Homo sapiens: one gene and its partners. The protein of the gene in region 6 purifies or fractionates together with the protein of the main gene of each other region. This does not show direct contact. Each region holds a gene or a part of one and is shown on either strand. Other genes may lie near its edges.

Region 1 (3,500 bases), on a different chromosome or scaffold from region 6:
CTCCATCCTGGGCAACAAGAACGAAACTCTGTCTCAAAAAAAAAAAAAAAAAAAAAAAAAAGTCTTGGTCTGTCACCCAGGCTGGAGTACAGTGGCTCAATCTGTGCTCACTGCAACCTCTGCCTCCCGGTTCAAACGATTCTCCTGCCTCAGACTCCCAAGTAACTGGGATTACAGGCGTGTACCACCACGCCCAGCTAATTTTTTAACTTTCAGTAGAGATGGGATTTCACCATGTTGGCCAGGCTGGTCTCGAACTCTGGTCCTCAAGTAATCTGCCTGCCTTGGGCTCCCAAAGTGCTGGGATTATAAGGCATGAGCCACCACGCCCAGCCAACACCCAATTTATTTATTTATTTATTTATTTTTTGAGACGGAGTCTCGCTCTGTTTCCCAGGCTGGAATGCAGTGGCTAGATCTTGGCTCACTGCAACCTCTGCCTCCCGGGTTCAAGCAATTCTTGTGCCTCAGCCTCCCGAGTAGCTGGGACTACAGGTGTGTGCCAGTATGGCCGGTTAATTTTTGTATTTTTGGTAGAGATGGGGTTTCACCATGTTGGCCAGGCTTGTCTTGAACTCTTGACCTCAGGTGATCCGCCTGCCTCGGCCTCCCAAAGTGCTGGGATTGTAGGCATGAGCCACCATGCCTGGCCTAACACCCAAAATTTTTATTGGGAGCTGGTCACTTAGTACCGTCTGCTTAGCACATACCAGAATTCCAAACCCTGCAAAGCAAAGCCTGTGTTCAGCATAAACCACGTTGTTTGCATAGTCTATGCACAGGGAGCCACCCATATCAGCTAACTGTTGACTGGGAGCGAAGTTGGCCAAGGGTCAACATTGCAAGGAGACCTTTCTATAGATAGTAGTCTCTCAGGCCTTCAGTGTTAACTCTTTTCTGCACAGGGTGAAAAAAGAAATGACACTCCCTGCTCCAGAATCAGATCATAGTTATTCTATGGTACTGGATATGGAGGTTGTGGTTGGTGATTCAGGGATCTTCATTTTTGCTGTTTTTCTTTTCCAGAATGGCTTTGACTACTTACTAACATACAGTGACAATCCCCAAACGGTGTTTCCTCGCTACTGTGTTAGTTGGATGGTTTCCAGTGGTAAGTAAGGGCAAGTATACAGGGCCTGGAACCTGGGTTGAGCATTTTGTTTTTCTCTATTTCCTAATGGGGAAATAAAACGTCTCTTCTGGTTCTTCTTTTTTTTTTTTTTCTGAGACAGAGTTTTCACAACCCATGCTTTGGGAACACATTCCGGGAGGCAGCTCTTATTCACAGGCTAGTCAGGTTGTGATCTTTATAAGGAAGAACTAGTTCCCTACCATCAAAGAAATAGGGTCTTCTCATTTTGAGCCTACTGTTGGTTTGTATGTCAGCTTAACCTGATTCTCGTCTCCTGACAGGCATGCCAGATTTCCTGGAGAAGCTGCACATGGCCACTCTGAAAGCCAAGAATATGGAGATTAAAGTAAAGGACTACATCTCAGCTAAGCCTCTGGAAATGAGTAGTGAAGCCAAGGCCACCAGCCAGTCCTCTGAGCGAAAGAACGAGGGCAGCTGTGGCCCTGCTCGGATTGAGTATGCTTGACAGGCTTTGGGATAAGAAGGGACAAGGTGCTTCTAGCCCTGTCTCAGTCCGTTATCACTCTGCTGTAGAAGGGGGACATGCCACATGTATTAGAAGGCATCTGCTGTAACTTCCAGTGCAAGATAATTCAATAACTGATGTCCCATTTCATTCAGAGCCCTTATTGCTCTTATCAAAACAGAAGAAGGCTACATTTGTGGGAGTGTTGTCATATTCTCAGGCCAACTGTTTTGAAATTCGGTATCTCACTGAGCTAATCTGGAACAAACCTCTCACCTCAGGCCAGAAGGGGATGACCTCCATTTGCTTCTCTGAGTAGTTTCCTCTGCTGACATTCCAAATCCCACCATCGATTGTGCAGCGCTTTGGATTTCCTTCAGTTCTCCAGGTCCACCTGGAAAGTATAGTTGGCCAGTTGAGTCTCTCAAATGAGGGGCTACTGGGAGTGCTCTTGGTAACAATCATGATGTGAATGGGTGTGAACGATACTTGGCTATGTTAAGTGCCTTGTCCGCACCTTGCTTTTATCTCTAGAGACATGAAGTTATTATTAATTTTTTTTTTTTTTAAGTAGAGATGGAGTTTCACTCTGTTTCCCAGGCTGGTCTTGAACTCCTGGGCCATGCCTGGCCAGGGACATGAATTTGTACAAAGAAATTTCCCTCCCTGCCTGCACAATATCACCCATTGACTCACCTTATCCAAAGCAAGTTTCCTGTGAATCGGCCAGTTCTTCTATATTCATTGGATCATTGCCTCCTTCCTAACCTTCCCCATTTACCAAGAACACTGGGAGACTAATCCTTTTAGATAGTAGCTTTTTGATGCTCAAAACATCACATTTAAATTTAGTTTAAAAATTTTTTAACTTTTGTGTCAAATAGGAGTTGAGGAATTGAGCAGGATTCTACCCTAGTCCGATTGTATAGAAAACACCATTTTGATTCAGGTATTATTTTTCATATTTCAGGTTTGACTTGTTCTTTTCAGAAGGCTAAAGTCAGAGGAATGGGGGCTGGGCCACTCCCTTGGAGCTCTCAGATCTACAGACAAGCTGTGTGAATGCATAGATGTAATCTTGTCTCAAATACTAATACAGTGGAGATTTGGTTTATGTTACCATTAAGTTCCTCTAAAAAGTTTTTCTTCCTCTCTTCAGAGCCAAAATAAAAGTGAACTACACTGTTCAGATAAGGTCACAATCTGATGCTGTCAGTTTGACCGAGCTGGTTTTGCTTATGGTCATGCTGCAATTTGTTAGAATAATAGGGATCAAGTTTTAAATCCTCCTCCTTCCCTTTTTTCTGGAGTCTTGAGGGCCAGAGTTTTTGTTTTTGTTTTTGTTTTTGTTTTCCTGCTTGCTACTGTTTTGTGGTGTTGAAAAGTGGTTTAAACCTGAGACTAACTTAAACACTTCCTTGACCTTCTTGTTGCCTGTTCATTTTTGTGCCAAGGAAGTAGCTGCCCCAGTGTATGTCTTGCCTTCTCCGCGTCATTGTTGGAAGAGGAGAGATGCATCGAGCAGTCCCAGCTGCTTTTCATTTATTACTTCTTCTTTCCAGGACCTGACAGAAGTCAGGGAAGAGTCCCTGGGTTATGTCCAAACTTAGCACCTGCAATTGTTGGGATGTGGATGGATGTGTGCATAAGAGAGAGAGAGAATATGTGTGTGTGTGTGTGCGTCTGCGAGCGCACACACATGCACAAGTGCGAAGGAGTTGCGGTTGCTCCATGTTCTGACTTAGGGCAATTTGATTCTGCACTTGGGGTCTGTCTGTACAGTTACTCATGTCATTGTAATGATTTCACTCCTAACTGTGACATTTTTATCAAATGTGTGAATAAATACATAAAGATTGGTACAAAAAAAAGTGTTTGTCTTTGGACAAATGGTGGTGGAAA
Region 2 (3,500 bases), on a different chromosome or scaffold from region 6:
AGCAGCTCTGCGCCCAGCTCAGCTGCCGCCTCCTCGTTCAGCGGCTTGATGACCGTGCCCCGGAAGCCCATGATGCGCATCTTGGTCCGCATCTCCACCCAGTGATACACTGCGGGGGAAGAGAGGGGTCAGGCTGCGCTCTGGGAGCCCCCTGCAAGCCCCACCCCTCTCACCCAGGGAATGCAGTCACCTAGCCTGGGTAACCCAGGGGTCTTTTAAAAGACCAGATGATTCTAGCGAGCAGCCAGGAATAAGAAACACTGCCCCAGAAGGGAGGTCCTCGGACTTGAGGGGCCGCGCCCCAAGAGGGACACCAGGAGCTTCCACAGCGCCAAGTTCATGGACGGTGTAAAGGTCCAGTTGCCAGATGCTTAGTTCCCTGTGTTCCTCCCTTAAGCCACTGCCATCCTGGCTGTCCTGCCCTGGCACTGTCGCCCCACCCACTTCCCAGGAGAAAGACCAACCTCCTTTCTTGCCTTATTTTCCCAAAATGCAAAGTTGGGGCTACAGATGGGGGAGAGGGGGGCTCCTGGCTCCAAAGGGCAGCTTAAGGTGGCAGTCGATGCTAAGTGCCTCTGAACACTTAGATACACTTGTAATAATCAATCATTTTTGCAAGTCTGATGGCTCCAATCCTAGAATTTCATCAGCCCTGAAGGTGCAGCTAAGAGCTGCGAGCTCTTCACAGTGAGGTTTTGGGCACATACCTTGGTGGGAGCTCAAGAGGTGAGTGGTGCTGCTGGAACAAAAACTCCTTCCTTGCCTAGCTGCTTCTTTATGAAGGAAGGTTCTCAGCACTTGAGTCTTTAAAACCAATGCAGAATTGATGCTGCATCCTGACTCACTCCTGCAACAATTAATATTCATCCAAGGGCACATGAAACCACAGAGGGAACCCTTGTGTGGTGCCTTTGCAGACTCATTTGCAACATCTCCTTTTACTTTTAAGGTTTAGTAATTATTCATGAAAATGTATAAAAGATGAACTTTTTGTTGTTGTTGTTTTAGAGACGGAGTCTCACTCTGTTGCCAGGCTGGAGTGCAGTGGCACAGTCTTGGCTCACTGCAACCTCCTCCTCCCAGGTTCAAGCAATTCCCCTGCCTCAGTCTCCTGAGTAGCTGGGACTACAGGCACGCGCCACCATGCCCGTCTAATTTTTCGTATTTTTAGTAGAGAAGGGGTTTCACCACGTTGGCCAGGCTGGTCTCGATCATCTGACCTCGTGATCCACCTGCGTTGGCCTCTCAAACTGCTGGGATTACAGCCATGAGCCACCATGTCCATCCAAAAGATGAACATTTTAAAGTAACTGCGCACTAATAATTTCAAAATTAACTCAATCCAGAAGAAAATAACTTAGCATTTAGAACCTTATGGTCACAGGAAATTAACATGTAAATTTCTGTATGTATTTTGGTTGCCGACATATAAATCACTAGATGGAATTCTGTGGGTATGTGGACTGTAAATACAAAAGTACATGAACAAAAAGAAACCATGTGAAATTTCTGACTGAAAAAGAAGAGCTTGTTTTTATTTGTATTATTTTCGAGACGGGGTCTTGCTTTGTCGCCCCGGCTGGAGTGTAGTGGCGCAATCATGGCTCACTGCAGCCTCGACCTTCCAGGCTCAAATGATCCTCCCACCTCAGTCCCTTGAGTAACTGGGACTACAGGTATGCCTGGCTAATATTTTTTTTTTTTTTGAGATGGAGTCACACTCTGTCGCCCAGGCTGGAGTGCAGTGGCGCGATCTCGGCTCACTGCAAGCTCCGCCACCCGGGTTCACACCATTGTCCTGCCTCAGCCTCCTGAGTAGCTGGGACTACAGGCGCCCGCTACCACGCCCAGCTAATTTTTTTATATTTTTAGTAGAGATGGGGTTTCACCGTGTTAGCCAGGATGGTCTCGATCTCCTGACCTCGTGATCCACCCACCTCGGCCTCCCAAAGTGTTGGGATTACAGGCGTGAGCCACCGTGCCTAGTCATTTTTGTATTTTTTTTAAAATAGAGATGGGGTTTATCAGTATGTTGCCTAGGCTGGTCTTGAACTCCTGGGCTCAAGTGATCTGGCTGCCTCGGCCTCCCAAAGTGCTGGGATTGCAATCGTGAGCCACTATGCCTGGCCTATATATATATATCTTTAAACCAGACATTGGTAGGCATCAAATCATTATTGTATGCGAACTGCAATAAATATGAAGGGAAGGATGCACCAGCTGTTTGAACATGTCAGTATCATAACACACCAGAACCAGAAATTCCATCCTTCACAACTACTTAAGGTTAATGAAGAAAAGTTTTACTTGTCAACTTGAAAATGCACTAGAGGGCACACAATTTATTTTTTCTTTTTCTGAGACAGGATCTCGTTCTGTTGCCCAGGCTGGAGTGCTGTGGAACAATCTCAGCTCACTGCAACCTCTGCCTCCCAGGCTCGAGTCATCTTCCCACCTCAGCCTCCTGAGTAGCTAGGACAACAGGTGCATGCCACCATGCCTGGCTAATTTTATTTTTTTTGGGTAGAGATGGGGTCTTGCCATATTCCATCTTATTTATTTATTTATTTAACAGATGGGCTCTCACTCTGTGGTCCAGGATGGAAGGCAGCGGCTCCATCACAGTTCACTGCAACCTCGAACACCTAGACTCAAGCAATTCTCCTGCCTCAGCCTCTGGAGCCGCTAGAACTATAGATGCCCCACCATGCCTGGCTGTTTTTAAATTGTTTTTTGGTAGAGACTGGGTCTTGCTATGTTGCCAAAGCAGGTCTTGAACTCCTGGGCTCAAGCAATCATCCTGCCTCAGCCTCCCAAAGTACTGGGACGACAGGAGACAGCCACTGAGCCCAGCCACTACACATTTTTCATCTTCAAAGGGGTGGGGTGGCAGGAAGGCTTGGGGAGCTCTGCTGGAGCTGGAGGGAAGACCTGAGGTGCAAGCTTAGGGCCCGAGAAGTCACTGTCACTGTCACTGTCAGCTGCTGCAGTTACTGTTACAGCTGTGACTTAGGCCCTGGGCTTGTGGGTTCCTGGGGTCCAGGCTGTGGAGACCCCTCCCACACTGAGGTCTTAGGGTCAGGCTGATCTGGGGTCCCCCCGGGGCTCCGCCACCTGCTGCCTGAGCAATGACAGCCTGCCCCAAGGCCCCTCTGTAACACAGGAAGGACAGCATCATCCTGACAATGACACTCGCCAGACCTGGTGGTGGCCCAGAGCTGGGCCCGTAACTGTCACTGCCTCCTTCATGTCAGGGACACCTAGCACAGTGGCCAGAGAGTGGTGAGGGGTGAGGGTTCCAGATCCTCTAGCCTTCCTGGGTGAGGTTCCCAGCGTGGAAATGCAAGTGTCTCAGTGCAGACCAAGCATGGGGATCTGGGCCAGCAGGTGGGTCTAGGTGTGCCAATGGGAGTGGGCACATACCCAGGCCACAGGAAATCAAATCAAGAGGGTGTGTGTGTGTGTGCACGCGTGTGTGCACGCAGGCATGGGCTTTCAGG
Region 3 (3,500 bases), on a different chromosome or scaffold from region 6:
CTCCTGTGCTCTACCCATCCACCCCCCAACCCCCCTACCTATCCCTGGCAACCACTGGTTACTGCCTTTGTAGTTTTGCCTTTTCCAGAATGTCATATAGTATGTATGAATCATATGGTATATAGCCTTTCCAGACTGGCTTCTTTCGCTTAGCAAAATGCATTTAAGCATCCTCCATGTCTTTCTGTGACTTGGTAACCCATTTCTTTTTATCATTGACTAATATTCTGTTGTATGGATGTGGAGGTACCACAGTTTATTTCTCCATTCACATACTACAGGATATCTTGGTTGCTTCCAAGTTTTAGCAGTGAATAAAGCTGCTATCAACATTTGTGTGCAGGTTTTTGTGTGGACATTAGTTTTCTTCTCCTTTGAGTAAATATCAAGAGCGATTGATGGATCACATGGTAAAAGTATGTTTCGTGTTATAAAAAACTACCAAACCTTTTTCCATAGTGGTGGCATAATTTTTCATTTCTACCAGTAATAAATAAGAGTTCCTGTTGCTCCACAGCCTCATCAGCATTTGTTGTCAGTGCTCTTAATTTAACTCTTCTAATACGCATATAGTAGTATCTCATTGTTATATTTTAATTTGCAATCTGTAATGACTTACAGTGTTGAGCATCTTTTTAAATGCTTCTCTGCCATCTGTATATCTTCTTTTGTGAATGTCGGTTAATTTACTTGGCCCATTTTAAAATTGGGTTGTTTGTTTTACTGTTGAGTTTTAATAGTTCTTTGTATATTTTGGATAACAGTGCTTTACCAGATATGTCTTCTCTCCCCAACCATGGCTTGTCTTTTCATTCTCTTAACAGTGTCTTTTGCAGAGCAGAAGTTTTAAATTTTAATAAGGTCTAATGTACCATTTTTTTTCCTCCATGAATTGTGCTGTTGTTGTTGTATCTAAAAAGTCAAATCCAAGTTTTGGCAGTTACAAATAAAGATGCTGTAAACATCAGTGTACAGATATTTGTGTGATTTTTGTGCAATGCAGATTTTCTCCATTGTCTTGCCTTTGTCTCTTTGTCAAAGTTCAGTTGACTGTATTGATGTGAGTTTACTTCTGGGCTCTCTATTCTGTTCAATTGATCTATCTGACTATTCTTTTGCCAATACCGTACTGTCTTGATTACTGTAGCTTTATAGTAAAGTCTTGGGGACAGGCAGTATCGGTCCTCTAACTTCGTTCTCCTTCAATATTGTGTTGACTATCCCAGGTCTTTTGTCTCTCCAAATAAACTTGAGAATCAGTTTGTTGATATCCACAAATAACTGCTGGGGTTTTGATTGGGATTGCATTGAATCTATAGATAAAGTCGGAAAGAACTGACATCTGGACAGTATAGAGTTTCCCTACCCATGAACATGTACTATCTCTTCATTTATTTATACATATTTTTATGTTTTCATCAGTTATGGTTATTCTCACATAGATTTTGACCTATTTTAGGTTTATGTATAAATAATTCACTTTTTGGTGCTAATGTAAATGGTTTTGTGTTTTTAATCTCAAATTTCAATTGTTTATTGCTAGTATATAAGAAAGTAATCAATTTTTGTATATTAACCATGACTTTACATCCAGCAACTTTGGCAGAATAACTTATTATTTCCAGTTTTCTGTTGCTTTGTTGGCATTTTCCACATAGCCAATTATGTTTTTTGAGAACAAGAACAGTTTATTTCTTCCTTCCCAATCTGTAGACTTTTCATTTTCTTTTCTTTTCTAATTACATTAGCCAGCACTTCCAGTATAATGTTGACTAGGAAGGGTGAAAGGGAACATCCTTGCCTTATTTCTGATCTTAGGGGAAAAGCTTCTAGTTTCTCTCCATTAAGTATGATGTTAGCTGTAGGTTTTTCATAGATCTTCTTTATCAAGTTAAGTTCCCATTTATTACTAGCTTGCTGAAAGCTCTTATCATAAATGAATGTTAGATTCTTGTCAAATGCATTTTCTGGATCTATTGATGTGATCATATAATTCTTCCTTAGCCTATTCATGCGATGGATTACATTAATTGATTTTCAAATGTTTAACCTAGAATAAATCCCATGTGGTGGTTATGTATAATTCTTTTTAAACATTGTTGGATTCAATTGCTGATTTTTTTGAGGATTTTAACATCTATGTTTATGAGAAATATTGATCTGTTAGTTTCCTTTCTTGTAATGTTTCTGGTTTTGGTACCAGGGTAATTCTGACCCAAGAAAATTAGAGAATTTCCTCTACTTCTATTTTTTGAAAGAGATCATAGAGAATTGGCATAATTTCTTTCTTAAATGTTTAGTCATATTCATTAACCCTAGTGCTTTCTATTTTGGAAGGCTACTGGCTCCAGTTCTTTAATCAGTATAGGCCTATTCAGATTATCTATTTCTCTTTGTGTGAGTTTTGGAACGTTGTACTTTCAAGGGATTGTTTCATTTCATTTAACTTACCAAATTTGTTGATATAGAGTTGTTCATACTAGTATTTTATTATCCTTTTAATGACCGTAGGATCAGTATTGATGGCCCTTCTTTCATTTTTGATATTAGTAATTTGAGTCTTCTCTCTTTTTCTTCTTAGTTAACCTGGCTAGAGGTGTCTCAGTTTTATTCATCTTTTCAAGGAACCAGCTTTAGGTTTTGTTGATTTTCTCTATTGACAGCATGTTTTCAATTTCACAAGTTCTGCTGTAATTTTTATTATTTCCTTTCTTCTGTTTATTTTGGATTTAATTTGCTCTTCTTTTTCTAGTTTCCTAATTTGGAAACTTGCTTTTAGCTCTTTCTTCTTTAATAATATATGCATTCAGTGCTCTAAATTTCCCTCTAAACACTACTTTAGCAGCATCCCATAAATTTTGATGTTATATTTTCATTTTAATTTAGTTTGAAATATTTTAAATTTTTTCTTGAGAGTTATTCTTTGATTTGTTTACATGTTGTTTAGAAGTGTGTCATTTAGTTTCCATTTTTTTAATGTTTTTCAGATATCTTTCTGTTATTGATTTCTAGTGATTCTGTTGTGATCTCAGTAATCTCCATCATAGAAGTCATTGATATTTGTTGTTGTATGTTTTATGGCACAGAATGTGGTCTGTCTTGATGAATATTCCATGTGAACTTGAGAAGAATGTGTATTCTGTTGTTGTTGGGTGAAGTATTCTCTAAATGCCAATTAGATACACTTAATTGATGGTGCTGTTCAACTATGTCCTTACTGATTTCCAGCCTGCTGGATCTATCAGTTAGTGGGTACTGGCCAGGCACGGTGGCTTACGCCTGTAATACCAGCACTTTGGGAGGCCGAGGTGGGCAGATCACCTGAGGTCAGGAGTGCGAGACCAGCCTGACCAACATGGAGGCTCTACTAAAAATACAAAATTAGCCGGACGTGGTGGTGCATGCCTGTAATCCTAGCTACTCGGGCGGCTGAGGCAGGGGAATTGCTTGAACCCGGGAGGCGGAGGTTGCAGTGAGCCGAGATCGTGCCACTGCACTCC
Region 4 (4,098 bases), on a different chromosome or scaffold from region 6:
AAACAGATCTGGAGCCCAGACAGGGGAAGAAGGTGGGCGACCAAGCTGAGAACCACCACCTTTGCTTAAGACCAAGGTATGAGCAGCCTGACTCAGTGGGAAGCGATCCGGTCGCCATTTTCAGTCCTTCTGTGAGTACTGGAAGGAAGGCACTCCTGAGCCTTGGCAGCATTACTTCCGGAACAGCCCGAGCACAGCTGCTCAGAAGGACGTTCATTTGCACACAAGACTTGGTTTAAGCTAAGCCAGCAAAAAAAGGCTGCACCGTGGGAGGTAGACAAGAAGCAAGTTCCAATCCCACCCCCACACCTGCTCTCGCCTTCGGACGGCTGCCCCTTGGTGTGGTCAATCACGTGCATCTGAGGGACGTCAGGAGCAAAGATCTGGACTTCAGCCCCTCCACGGCTCAGGTGCACCAGGATCCTGCACGGGGGAAAACCAGAGACAACTCTTCAAAACGTGCCCCACTCAGATTTGTGTTAACACATTTTTAAAAACAGGATTTTAGCTAAGTACCAGGAGCAAATTCCTAATGTATATTAATATCTTACTTGCTCTGCAAAAAGTTACAGTTGGTTCCATACCAAGCCAAACGTCCCCCACACCCCCATTCCAATTCACTGTCGGTTGGTGGGTTACGACTATGACAAACCCTCAGAAGTGGGCTATGGAGATCAGCTGGTCCCAACAGCTCCCTTTGCAAACTGGGGTATGGGGGCCGGGTGACTCCACTGAGGGCACAGCCTGGAGGCGTGCGGGTCCCCGGCTGCTGAGTGCTCTACCTACACCCAGGGCCTGGCTGCCCTCCTCCAGTTGCTTGCTGCAAGCACCAAGAGTGAGAAGCAGCAGTGTGCTCAGAGTGCCACGTGCACAGACGGTGTGACGGGGCTTTCGGTCACTACTTAGTTCAATTTCTAGTCTCCCTCAACTTTCCCATCACAGATGGTGGGAGAGACACAAGAGACCCCAGGACAACACCACAGGCCAGGCAGCTCCATCTCCCCAAGGGCAAGGGCAACAGAAGCTCCTCCTGGGGACAACAGCTGACATTATGGGGGCTCACGCTGGCATCCGCAACTCCCAGTGCCAACAGGAGATAGGTGGCTAAGCCCACCCACACACTAAGCCCTCACTGCCCCTTACGTGGAGGAGGAAACCGAGGCATGAAGTGCAGTGACTTGCCAGAGGGAGAGGTCAGCACCTGGCCCTGGCACTTGGGTTCCGCTACCCATAAGAAATCCACCCAGACACCCCAGACACAAGACCCTGCCGTTCTGCCTGGGAGAGCTCAAGCTATTCTGGGGCTATTTTCTATCCCACCAAGGCCAAATCATGAAACACATCCTGGCCCTTTCCCCCAGCTCACTCTGCCTAGTGCCAACTCCAACCAGCCAAGGTGGGCCACCCACAAAGCCACCAGCCTCAGGCCACTCTCCATGGCCTGACACCCCTTTCGCCACCACCCAGCTCTCCCCTCTCCAGTTCACCCTGAACCACATGGGAACTACAGGTACCTGGCACGCGTGGTGGCCTCCTGCCCTACTGGTTCGGCCTGCAGTCATTTCCAGTAGCACAGGAAATCAGGCCACCAAGCACTCAGCAACAGCTGACCAGTTACGTAAACAGTAACCTGTCTAGGACCCAGAAATACCACGCAACTGTTAAAATGATGTTGAGAACTGAATGAATGGGAATTACTTCCCATGCGTCAGAAACATTTGCAAAACACGGGTGAGTGTGATCTCAGTGTTTTCAAAATGTGTGTGTCCTGAAAAACACTCAAGTGAAATGCTAAGTCATTTCTAGGCTCTAGGTGACAGTATAAGCGACACTTAAAAACTGTTCTTTCTTAGCGTCTCCCTGGGTTTTGCAAGTCGTTTTTGCTTTTTTTTAGCCAAGAATAGGGTATTTAAAATACAAGCTCTCTCGGCCGGGTGCAGTGGCTCATGCCTGTAATCCCAGCACTTTGGGAGGCCAAAGCGGGAGGATCACTTGAGGTCAGGAGTTTGAGACCAGCCTGGCCAACATGGTGAAACTCCGTATCTACCAAAAATACACAAATTAGTTGGGTGTGGTGGTGCATGCTTGTAGTCCCAGCTACTCGGAAGGCTGAGGCAGGAGAATCGCTTGAACCCAGGAGGCGGAGGCCGCAGTGAGCCAAGATCGCGCCATTGCACTCCAGACTGGGCGCTGTCTCAAAAGACAAAAAGTAAAAATAAAATAAAATACATGCTTTCTCTAAGCTGTTCAAAAAAGAGTAAACTTCACTGGTGGAGAGGCCTTCTCGAGGCCCCCGGGGTGGAGGACCAGCTGCCCCTGAGGACTTACGCCGAGGCCTCGTGGATCTCGGTCCCATCGTAGACTCCGCATCCAGACAGCACCTGCGAGAGGAGCGGGAGCTGACCCGGGGGAAAGGGGCCGACCTGGGCGGCGGGAGTTGACTGGGGGGAAAGGGGCCGACCTGGGCCGCGGGCGCTGACCCGGGAAAATGGGGCCGACCTGGGCCGCAGGAGCTGACTTGGGGTGAAGGAGCCGACGTGGGGCGGCGGGAGCGGACCTAGGAAGAGGGGCCGACCTTGGGCAGAGAACAGCGAAGGCTGATCTCTGGAGGCGGGAGCTGACCTCACCCCCTCCGTCCACTCACCAGCGCGACCCTGGCCGCGGGGCGCGGCACGGAGAGGTGAAGGGCTGCGCGCTGGGAAGGCGTCCGACCGCCGGGGGACAGGGACGTGAATGCAGATGCCGCAGCGAGCCTCGAGGCCACCAGGGCCCTCACAGCCGCCATTGCGGTGAGGACAGCGGGGTCGGAAGGTCACGCAGGGACAGAGCGTGCGCACCCACCCCTCTACAAACGCGTTGCTCGTCGGGACTGCGCCTGCGCAGCCTTCGGGGCGGAGCCAAGACCCGCCCCCGTCTCAGCCCTATCCAGTGAGTGCGCCGGTGGGCGGGGGCCGCGCCTGCGCAGAGCCTCCGAATAGAGTTCCGGGAACCCTGTCTTCCTTCCGGTGGTGGCTGAGGGCTCGTGCTCGAGGCTGAGGGATGCTGGTGACTCCCGGGGTCCCCAGCCCCGCCCCCATCGGACGCCTCCACAGGCGGCGCACCCTTTCCGCCATCCGCAGAGCAAGGCTGCCTCGGGGCGGCTCAGTCCGGCGCTTCTTACCTTACCTCCGTCTCATCCTTAACTCACCACGAGCGTCCAGGGTCCACATCCTCCTAAATGGCCACTCGTCTTAATCTCGGCGTCAGGACCCACGCGGGGTCAGGACTACCCCTCCGCTTCCATGACTGTCTCCTCGCGGCTCCGGCTCCCACGGAGCGACCCCTCCGGGTTTTACTGACCCCGGGATGTTGTATCCTGGAAACTGCAGTTCCACCCAGGGGCTTGATCTGGGTTAGTCTGGGGGCAAGTGAGCCGCCGATTCTGTTTGGGTTTTTTTTTTTTTTTTTTTGAGACGGAGTTTCCCTCTTGTTGCCCGGGCTGGAGTGCAATGGCGCGAAGTCGGCTCAACGCAACCTCCGCCTCCCAGGTTCAAGCGACTCTTCTGCCTCAGCCTCCCAAGTAGCTGGGACTACAGGCATGCGCCACCACGCCAGGCTAATTTTGTATTTTTAGTAGAGACGGGGTTTCTCCATGTTGGTCTGGCTGGTCTTGAACTCCCGAGCTCAGGTGATCTGCCCGCCTCGGACTCCCAAAGTGCTGGGATTACAGGCGTGAGCCACCATTCCCGGGCACTGTTTGGGTTTGTTTTTTTGTTTTTGTTTTTTACGTTCACAGCATGGACGGTCAGTGTGAAGATCCCAGCTGCTCGGGTCCTAGCTGGAATTCTTCCATTAAAAAAATCTGTTTGTTATGCATGGGTTAGTTCACAGAGGAATAGCTGGATAAGTGCTGGCTTTTTCCCCGATTTACCCATTTTCAACCTAATAATGCAGGTTTTTGAAATAATGTGAATGGTTACTGCTGGCGGATGTTCACAGGGACACACCGGATTCTACAGACACATCTGATGATCTAGCCACGGCTGTCACTTTCCCCACTGCCGCGTTGTCCATCACTAGGACTTTACTGCCAATCCTTGCAAGATAGTGGGGAACTAG
Region 5 (2,360 bases), on a different chromosome or scaffold from region 6:
AACATAATTAAAAAAAAATTAACCTGACTGTAGACCCAGGCTGTTCATTGCAACGCTAAGTTTTGATTCTCTGTGGCTTGTCTGTCTCACACCAGAACCACAGCTTCTGGCCTCATTCTCTCCTGTGTCCCTGCTGAGACTGGGGACACAAGAGAGAATGAGTGTCCTGCAAACATCGTGGATAAAAGCCCTTCTTCTCACCCACCTCACTGATATTTGTGTTCCAACACTCAACTTGGAAGTCATCTCCCTGGGAAATCTCTGACCCCACCGGCTGGGCCAGGCCAGGTCCCCCAGTTGGGTTCCCAAGGGCCCAGTGTGCCTCCACGTCTAGCATACTTCACCCCGAATTACAGCTGCCTTTGTCCTCATTGTCCCCCGCATCAATACAGAGGCTCCTCATGGGCAGGGACTGGATCCACAGGGCCTGGCACACAAAAGACTCAAGTAAATGTTGAATGAACCAAATAATGGGTCTCTAGGAAATAAGTTAACAGAGATAGATGTTGAGAGTCAGTTTTATTGCCATCTCTGGGAGGGGCTCAAATCCGCCCAATCTCCTTCAGCTTGGCCACCAGGTCCTCAGTGGTCTCCACCTTGACGCCGGCCGTGCGCTGGGGCGGGTCCTCCACACTGATCACAGAGAGCTTGGAGGTCAGGTCCACACCCAGGTCCCCAGGCTTGATCACCTCGATCTTCTTCTTCTTGGCTTTCTGCACATGGGAAGCCATTGTTCACAGGGCTGTGGAACTCCTGCCACCCTTCCTGCCACCTCCTTCCCATGGGTGCCAGGCCTGCAGACCAGTCCCATGGGCTGAACCCTCTGGACCCACCCACTGGCCAGGACACGCGAAACTTCTCACAGGGCCACACCTGGTGTGGACAACTCCTGCTGGCTAGGAGGCCCTGGGAGGCCCAACTACTGCAGCAGTCCTCCTTTAGGTAACCAAATCAGGAAGCCCTTCACTGGCTGCAACAGAGTGGCAAACCCATCCTTTTGGTAGTAATGACTCAGTGGACTTTTGGTTGAGATGGCATGCTGAAGGCTCCCAATAGGCTGAGATGATGCACTGAACCCTCCCTATAGACTGAGATGATGCGCTGAACCCTCCCTATAGGCTGAGATGATGCGCTGAACCCTCCCTATAGGCTGAGATGATGCGCTGAACCCTCCCTATAGGCTGAGATGATGCGCTGAACCCTCCCTATAGGCTGAGATGATGCGCTGAACCCTCCCTATAGGCTGAGATGATGCGCTGAACCCTCCCTATAGACTGAGATGATGCGCAGAACCCTCCCTATAGGCTGAGATGATGCGCTGAACCCTCCCTATAGGCTGAGATGATGCGCTGAACCCTCCCTATAGGCTGAGATGATGCGCTGAACCCTGCCTATAGACTGAGATGATGCGCTGAACCCTCCCTATAGGCTGAGATGATGCGCAGAACCCTCCCTATAGGTTGAGATGATGCGCTGAACCCTCCCTATAGACTGAGATGATGTGCTGAACCCTCCCTATAGACTGAGATGATGCGCAGAACCCTCCCTATAGGTTGAGATGATGCGCTGAACCCTCCCTATAGGCTGAGATGATGCGCTGAACCCTCCCTATAGGCTGAGATGATGTAGTGAACACTCTGTAATGGCTGAAATGACTCATTGAACCCTCCCCATTAGTTGAGATGATCCAGTGAACCCTCCCTGTTGGCTGAGATGAATATTCTCTATTGGCGGAGATGACCCACTAAACTGTTAATATTGGCCAAGATGACCCAGCGAACCCATCTACTGGCCATGATGATTAGTGAACTCTACCTGTTAGCCAAGAGACCCCATGCACCCTTCCTAGTTAACTAAGATGATCTACATGGTAACTTCACATTGGCAAAAATTACCAAGGGGACCCTCCCTAATGAACCTAGATGACCCAGTGAACTTGTTCCACTGGCTGGAATGACAAAGGGAACACCTTCTGCTGCCCAGCGAAGGCTTTCTACTGGCCTAGATACCAGCAAGCCCTCCCTGCTAGCCAAAGCAGCCCCCATGAACTCTCAGTATTGGCAGAGATGACCCAGCAAACTCTCTCTATCAGCCAAACTCCAGGTGACGGCTTCCTGTGCACGAGACCTCCTTTGGATCCTTCCCTCCCCACGTGCGACCACCGGGGGGCACTGGGCTGGCAATGTGCTTGCCACCCCCAGGCCCTCAGTGCCCGCTGGCCAGGGGCTCACCATGATGTTGGGCAGCGTGGCGTAGCGGGGCTCGTTGAGCCTCAGGTCAGCTGTCACCACAGCTGGCAGCTTCAGGCGCAGGGTCTCCAGGCCCCCATCGATCTCCCGCTCCACTTTCAACTTGTCCCC
Region 6 (4,016 bases):
GCAGCATACAGACATCTATGTGTAAACTGTTACTTGTTGGTTAACATTTATGTTTGAAATGGAAAATCAATAAAAGGGAACTTATATTAATTTATAAGCACATTAAGAAAAGAGGGGACACTATTTTTGATCCCAAGATAGCAACAAAACTAAAAACTTTTCCAAAGAAGCAAACGGGAACAGAGGTCAATAGGCTGTGACCTCTATTTTATGTTTAAAACGTTTGCACATCCACTAAGTGCACTGCAGAATCTTAAATGCAATTAAAATCAATGGGCATACAAGTTATAGAGTAGCTTGAGGAAGCACAAGTCAATCTTCATTAGCTATTGTAGCAAAGATTCCTTCCAAATCCATGGGAGCAGGTGCTGTTTATACTCCCTTCATTGACGCCCAGAACAATGGCATAGGGTGAGCATTGAATACTTATTTGCTACGCGCATGAATGAATGAAGCTACGCTGCGAAGGCAGACTGCGTGGCTGCTGGTCCCGTGGCTGCTGGCCCCGCAGCATGTCTGCCGCCTTTTCAGCAGGCTTGCTGCATCTCCTCATTCCCTCACCTTTCTGGCAGTAAGGAGTTCCCACGTTTGCCCCGCTTCAGTGTCGTGGACTGGCAAAATGCTGTCTCTAAACCCCTCCACGCCTCAGGTAATCCGCTCATTTCTCACACAGACGCAGCTGTTTCCGAGGAATGTCCGGCCGAGCCCGCAGGGTGCGGGCAGCGAGTATCCTGGGACCTTCAGGGGAGGAGGTGGCTCCCACACCCCAATACCGTACAGAGAGTCCGAAGAGTCCGGGCCCTTATTTTTCCAATTCTTGGTAAACAACAAACATGCTCGCCCTCGCCTCCCCGTGCAGACGCCTCAGGGCCAACTCGGGCTTCGCCAGGCACCGAGAGCAGACAGAAGACGCCAAATGGCTATCACCAGGAGAGAGGGCGAGGCAGCCGCGCGGCGTATAGCGCTCGCCCTTCCCGCGCGCTCGGTCGCCCGACGCCTCACGCGCGAGGTTGCCTTGGCAGTGGCTGGAGGGCAGGTGGGGGCGCGTGCGCGCAGAAGGGCGGGGGAGGGACCACCGCGCGCCAGCAGGTGGGCGCGTTCTCCCGCGCGCGTGCGCGCGTCGAAGCCCTATACATCACGTTCCCCGAGAGCAGCGTCCCCTCCCCGCCGGGAGCGCGCGCCTCCCATCCTCGCGCCGGGTCCTGCTCGGTCTCTCAGAGCCGCACACTCCGCGGAGCTCCTGCCACAGCCGTCGCCTTCGCGGCGGCTCTCCAGCCCCGCGCCTCAGCCTCGGCGCCGCATCACCGCGTCCCAGGCCTCCTTCCCTCCCTCTGCCACTCCCCCTCCCTTTCCCGCTCTTCTTGCCCACCCGGCCGGCAGAGAGAGCCTGGATACGAAGCAGGCGGGCTTCAGAGTGGGTTGGAAAAATGGAGGTGCCGCGCCTGGATCATGCCCTCAACAGCCCCACCAGCCCCTGTGAGGAGGTGATCAAAAACCTCAGCCTGGAGGCCATTCAGCTGTGCGACCGGGACGGTAAGAGCGGCCGGGACCGCGAGGAAAGGGACAGAGTTCGCGCCGAGGCGCCGGGGCCACTCTGGCTCCGCCGACGCCGCTCGCCAGGGCGGCAGGGTCTTTTGTTGTCCCCTCTGTGCAAATAAATGCAGATGTGGGTTACCCTCCGCCCACCGCCCTCCCCTCACCCCAGAAACAAAAGGACCCCGGGGCTCGCGCCTTGGCGCGGAAAGTAGCCGTCCACAACCGTGGCGCCCTTCGCCGCCTTCGCCCGCCTGGCCCGGACGAGGGCGACGTTCCCGCTCGCGGCTCCTGCCCCGACGAGGCGTTTCCGATCTTTGCCGCAGTCCGGATTTCCTGGGTCTCTGGGCACTGAAGGGGAAATGCCCTCGGGATGTTTCTAGCAACCCCCTTCCCCCAACACACACACACTAGTTGGCATTCTCTTCCAGAAACTTATCATTTTCTTTTTTAAACCTCCCATCCTCAGACTCCCCAAATTAACAAGTCTTTTTAGCCTCTTGGATTGGGATTAGGATGACAGTTTTTCAGTGAGGGCGCAGAAAAACAGTGCATTTCAGCACCAAGGACAGACACAATCTTCATGGTTCCTGGGCTCTGAGTCAGACTGTCGAAAATATTGGCCTAATATATGTGCTGTGATTCAGACTTTGTGGCGAGTACGTACCATTGCGTGTTGATATTATATCGTTTATTCTGTTGTTGAAGTTGGCAGGCTCCTGTGGAAGGAAATTGATTGAATACAGGTCTGAGCGTTGAAGACATAAGCTAGTGCTGTGTGCGGTGTGGTTAGTTACAGTGCTTCTGGGTTAGCTGGACTAGTTAGAGTCTGCTACTTTAGTAATGTGGTACAAAACTTCATTTGTAAAGAAATCATTTGATTAGTAATTGGTTGGCCGAATAATTGTAAAATTCTACATCTGACAAAGGAAACACAGTTCACATGTTGTTAAGAGGGCCCCAAATACTTTTGACTGTAAATGAAATTAATGTTTAACTGTATATAGAGGTAATGATTGTAAAACATGTCTTTAACCAAAGTTATGTACAGATACTAATACGCTCACAGTAAGGTCATAAAATTTATCAGCCTAATCCAAATAGGGAGCAGAGGTCTTGTTTCCAAAGTCATTTAAATGGTAATCACTTGGTTACGCATTGCTATTCAGCACGTTTATATCAAGCAAGCACCGAATTTGTTTATTACTAAATTTTATATTTATTAATATAAATTTATATTTAATAATTTTGAAACCAGAATTCAAACTTTTTGAAACCAAAACCACTTTAATTTCTGATACAGGTGTAGTATATGAATAAATAAATACGTTTGCAAAGACAGCTTGTATTTCCTTTATTCTTAGACTGTTTTAGTCACCATGGTAGTAAGTGCACATATTTATGGTATCTAAAAACATTTATCATTTTGGTATTCCATATGTAAGCTTGCATGATTATAGACTGTAAAGATTATTTTTAATAACGCATAGGAAGTCATTTGGATTTTAGTTTAGACTTTTATGAAATGACTTTTTGTAATGTAACCATTGCAAGTTGTAAATATTTTTATTTTCTTAGGGTTGAGAGAAACACAAGACTAATAAAAGTAGACTTCATTTTTATTTATTGCAATGATAAAGCAAAAGCTCATTCTTGTACTCAATGGAATTAGGCATTCATTGTTGCTCTTCAGAACCCAGTAATCTCAATACTTAAAACCGCATTTACCACGTGTTTCAAAGATATTAGGGAAAATTTAAACTTTTTAATGAAGTTCACAGAGTTAAGAGAGTGCAAAAAATAATGCTGTATTTACTGTGATCCCCTAGAGGAGTAGCTATTTTATTCTGGTATTATTTTTTAGTTGTTTCTTTTCAAATTAGGAATCCCACAAAATGAACAAATTATGTAACATTTAATTTTGGGGAGGGTGCTGGCACTAAGTAACATCTATGAAAATTACTATTTGCAGACTTCCAAGTAATTTACATAGACTAATTAAATAGGGTTTTATTTTATAAAATAGTATACACCAACAAATACAAAGAGCTAACTCTTCTACTAGAAGATGTATAAAATTTGGAAATACTTTGTTTAGAGATGTTGTTAAATGCTTAACTTATTTTGTTATCCTATCTTACATGTCAATTCCAAAAATATTAACTTGGTTGGCTTCAAAGGGATAATTTAGGGGGAATAATGTCGTTTGTTTTTAATAGAACAGCATATGAAATGTTGCATTAAATTTGTCAAACAGACCTTACTTAGCATCATTTTGTATTGAGAGATTTTCAGCTAGTTGCTTTTTACTCCCTTTGCTTCCCTCCTTTCACTTTCTTTCCACTCAAGTCTCGTTATTTTACTTCTGTAACTATGTAACATAGAAAAGGATGTGGCAGAATATGGGACAGAAGATCTATTTTGTGTTTAAGTACCTAATAAGAGCTATATTTCATAATTTATGATAGAATACATTTATTTTG
Region 7 (2,390 bases), on a different chromosome or scaffold from region 6:
TATGTATTTGTTTTGAGATAGAGTCTCGCTCTGTCACCCAGGCTAGAGTGCAGTGGTGCGGTCTCGACTTACTGCAACCTCTGCCTCCCAGGTTCAAGCGATTCTCCTGCCTCAGCCTCCCAAGTTGCTGGGACTACAGATGTTCACCACTACACCCAGCTTATTTTTTGTGGAGACGGGTTTCACTATATTGGCCAGACTGGTCTCGAACTCCTGAACTCAAGTGATCTGCCCGCCTTGGCCTCCCAAAGTGCTGGGATTACAGGCGTGAGCCACCGCGCCCGACTAATATCCATGTCTTTTAAACTACCTAGCAAGTTGCTTTTTGGCCAGACAAAACCTTAGTTGTTGAACTCCAGGGCACCTGTCTCTGAAACATATTACTGCTCATTTTCATCATAACAGCAACTGGAAAGTAATTCATTTAATTAAATGTCCTTTTCTCTTCCCCCCTTCCTAAAAGAGACTACCTTGTAAAAAATTTGAGGCAGAAACAAACATTGGCTTCCAATAAAAAATAATTCAACTTTATTAGTATGAAATATTTTGAGATAATTAGTGACCCAAATGCATGATTCTCCAATATGAAAGGTGTTCAGCATAAGCATACAATCATTTAGTAAAACTGCTCTTTATGAGACCCCCAGAAAAGCTGGAGGCACTTCCTCTTTTTGGTGGAGAGAGAAGACACTACTTAACTGGCCATTTCCTTGCTGGAGTTTATTCCGATTCCCTTTTGTCTGATTCTTCCTCCTCAAACTCGACTAAAGGAGTGTGTCTGTTGGCCTGAGCACCTTCTCTGTAGAACACTTTCTTTACTGTGCCATCCTTTGGAGACTTTATGGTATGCTGCAGAGACACATGACAGGACAAATGATAGCTGCAATACTAATGAGGACTGAGTATACACCAAGTCAAGAAAGGGAGACCAAAAATGAAAACTGTAGCCAACTTTGATGTTTTGTCATCTCTCGGTGCTTTCCAACGCTTTGTTGTTGTTGTTGTTTTTATTTTTAACATCACAGCACACAGGGAGAACAGTAACAAGTTGAGAGGAATGAACACTGGGACACAGCAGTAACCTTTCAACGATATGACTGGGAAGCTCTGGTGTAGCTCGCAGTTCTCAACTTGAGCTTCACATGAGAATTGCACCTAGGAAGCTTTCAACAGTTTTTTGTTTGCTTGCTTTTGTTTTTTTTTTTTTGTTTTTTGTTGTTGTTGCTGTTGAGACGGAGTCTCACTCTGTCACCCAGGCTGGAGTGCAACGGCATGGTCTCAGCTCACTGTAACCTCTGCCTCCCGGGTTCAAGCGGTTCTCCCACCTCAGCCTCCCAAGTAACTGGGACTACAGGTGTGTGCCACCACACCTGGCTAATTTTTGTATTTTTAGTAAAGACGGGGTTTCACTATGTTGGCCAGGCTGGTCTTGAACTCCTGACCTCATGATCCACCCACCTCGGCCTCCCAAAGTGCTGGGATTACAAGCGTGAGCCACTGCGCCTGGCCTTGTTGTTTGTTTTTTTAAATTGAGACGGAGTCTCGCTCTGTCACCCAGGCTGGAGTGCAGTGGCAAGATCTCGGCTCACTGCAACCTCTGCCTCCCAGGTTCAAGCAATTCTCCTGCCTCAGCCTCCTGAGTAGCTGGGATTACAGGCATGCACCACCATGCCTGGCTAATTTTTGTATTTTTAATAGAGATGGGGTCTCACCATGTTGGCCAAGCTGGTCGTGAACTCCTGACCTCAAATGATCCGCCTGCCTCTGCCTCCCAAAGTGCTGGGATTACAGGCATGAGCCACTGCGCCCAGCCTTTCAAAAGTATTGATCCTTGGGCTCTACTCCTGGAGATTGCAATTCAATGGGTCTGGGGAAGAATTTTTTCAAATCTCCCCAGGTGACTGTACACATGCTCCTTGACTTACGATGGGGTCAGGTCCAGATAAATCCAATGTAAGCTGAGGAGCATATTCAACGTGTATGGTTTTGCACCATTGTCAAGCTGAAAAATCCTTAATTGAACCATTGTAAGTTGAGGACTGTCTGCAATATTCAGCCAGGGCTAAGAATCACTGACCTACCATTTGAACCATCTAAAAACCTAAACAGCTAATTTAATTTGATTGCGGTTTTCACTTTGAAACTGATGCCTGGCATCCTTGGTTCGGCCTTAGAACCAAGATAATACCAACAGTTAACATTAGAAAATACCAACAGTTAACATTCCAGAAACACCAACAGTTAACATTCAGTTGGATTATCTTAGAAAATACCAACAGTTAACATTCAGTTGGATTATCGCCTGATTCCAAGCTATTGATAATTTCATTAATTTCAGAATCAGAAATGACAGGTGCAATTTCACAAAGTTAAAGTAAAACTCTTTTCTA

What was found.
Region 1: the proteins of PHYHIPL (region 6) and STARD7 purify together in Homo sapiens (affinity purification with mass spectrometry; one large-scale study listed by BioGRID and IntAct). This does not show direct contact.
Region 2: the proteins of PHYHIPL (region 6) and OPA3 purify together in Homo sapiens (affinity purification with mass spectrometry; one large-scale study listed by BioGRID and IntAct). This does not show direct contact.
Region 3: the proteins of PHYHIPL (region 6) and ALDH1L1 purify together in Homo sapiens (co-immunoprecipitation; one large-scale study listed by IntAct). This does not show direct contact.
Region 4: the proteins of PHYHIPL (region 6) and putative glutamine amidotransferase-like class 1 domain-containing protein 3B, mitochondrial purify together in Homo sapiens (affinity purification with mass spectrometry, with the first as the bait; one large-scale study listed by BioGRID). This does not show direct contact.
Region 5: the proteins of PHYHIPL (region 6) and ETFB purify together in Homo sapiens (co-immunoprecipitation; one large-scale study listed by IntAct). This does not show direct contact.
Region 7: the proteins of PHYHIPL (region 6) and MCCC1 purify together in Homo sapiens (co-immunoprecipitation; one large-scale study listed by IntAct). This does not show direct contact.

What each region holds. Positions count from the first base shown.
Region 1 is NC_000002.12:96,184,828-96,188,327, reverse strand, and holds the end of STARD7 (stAR-related lipid transfer protein 7, mitochondrial isoform 1 precursor), read left to right. Parts: intron 1-1,026; coding exon 1,027-1,111; intron 1,112-1,413; coding exon 1,414-1,598; 3' UTR 1,599-3,469; downstream 3,470-3,500. UniProt on the Homo sapiens protein: May play a protective role in mucosal tissues by preventing exaggerated allergic responses.
Region 2 is NC_000019.10:45,553,803-45,557,302, forward strand, and holds part of OPA3 (optic atrophy 3 protein), read right to left. Parts: intron 848-3,500; exon of another isoform or gene 708-847; intron 110-707; coding exon 1-109. UniProt on the Homo sapiens protein: May play some role in mitochondrial processes.
Region 3 is NC_000003.12:126,174,087-126,177,586, reverse strand, and holds part of ALDH1L1 (cytosolic 10-formyltetrahydrofolate dehydrogenase), read left to right. Parts: intron 1-3,500. UniProt on the Homo sapiens protein: Cytosolic 10-formyltetrahydrofolate dehydrogenase that catalyzes the NADP(+)-dependent conversion of 10-formyltetrahydrofolate to tetrahydrofolate and carbon dioxide.
Region 4 is NC_000021.9:5,125,570-5,129,667, forward strand, and holds the start of putative glutamine amidotransferase-like class 1 domain-containing protein 3B, mitochondrial, read right to left. Parts: upstream 2,801-4,098; 5' UTR 2,786-2,800; coding exon 2,645-2,785; intron 2,382-2,644; coding exon 2,329-2,381; intron 424-2,328; coding exon 310-423; intron 1-309.
Region 5 is NC_000019.10:51,344,669-51,347,028, forward strand, and holds the end of ETFB (electron transfer flavoprotein subunit beta), read right to left. Parts: coding exon 2,232-2,360; intron 714-2,231; coding exon 543-713; 3' UTR 501-542; downstream 1-500. UniProt on the Homo sapiens protein: Heterodimeric electron transfer flavoprotein that accepts electrons from several mitochondrial dehydrogenases, including acyl-CoA dehydrogenases, glutaryl-CoA and sarcosine dehydrogenase.
Region 6 is NC_000010.11:59,175,427-59,179,442, forward strand, and holds the start of PHYHIPL (phytanoyl-CoA hydroxylase-interacting protein-like), read left to right. Parts: upstream 1-1,216; 5' UTR 1,217-1,427; coding exon 1,428-1,533; intron 1,534-1,737; exon of another isoform or gene 1,738-2,164; coding exon of another isoform or gene 2,165-2,192; intron 2,193-4,016. UniProt on the Homo sapiens protein: May play a role in the development of the central system.
Region 7 is NC_000003.12:183,014,718-183,017,107, forward strand, and holds the end of MCCC1 (methylcrotonoyl-CoA carboxylase subunit alpha, mitochondrial isoform 1 precursor), read right to left. Parts: intron 850-2,390; coding exon 721-849; 3' UTR 501-720; downstream 1-500.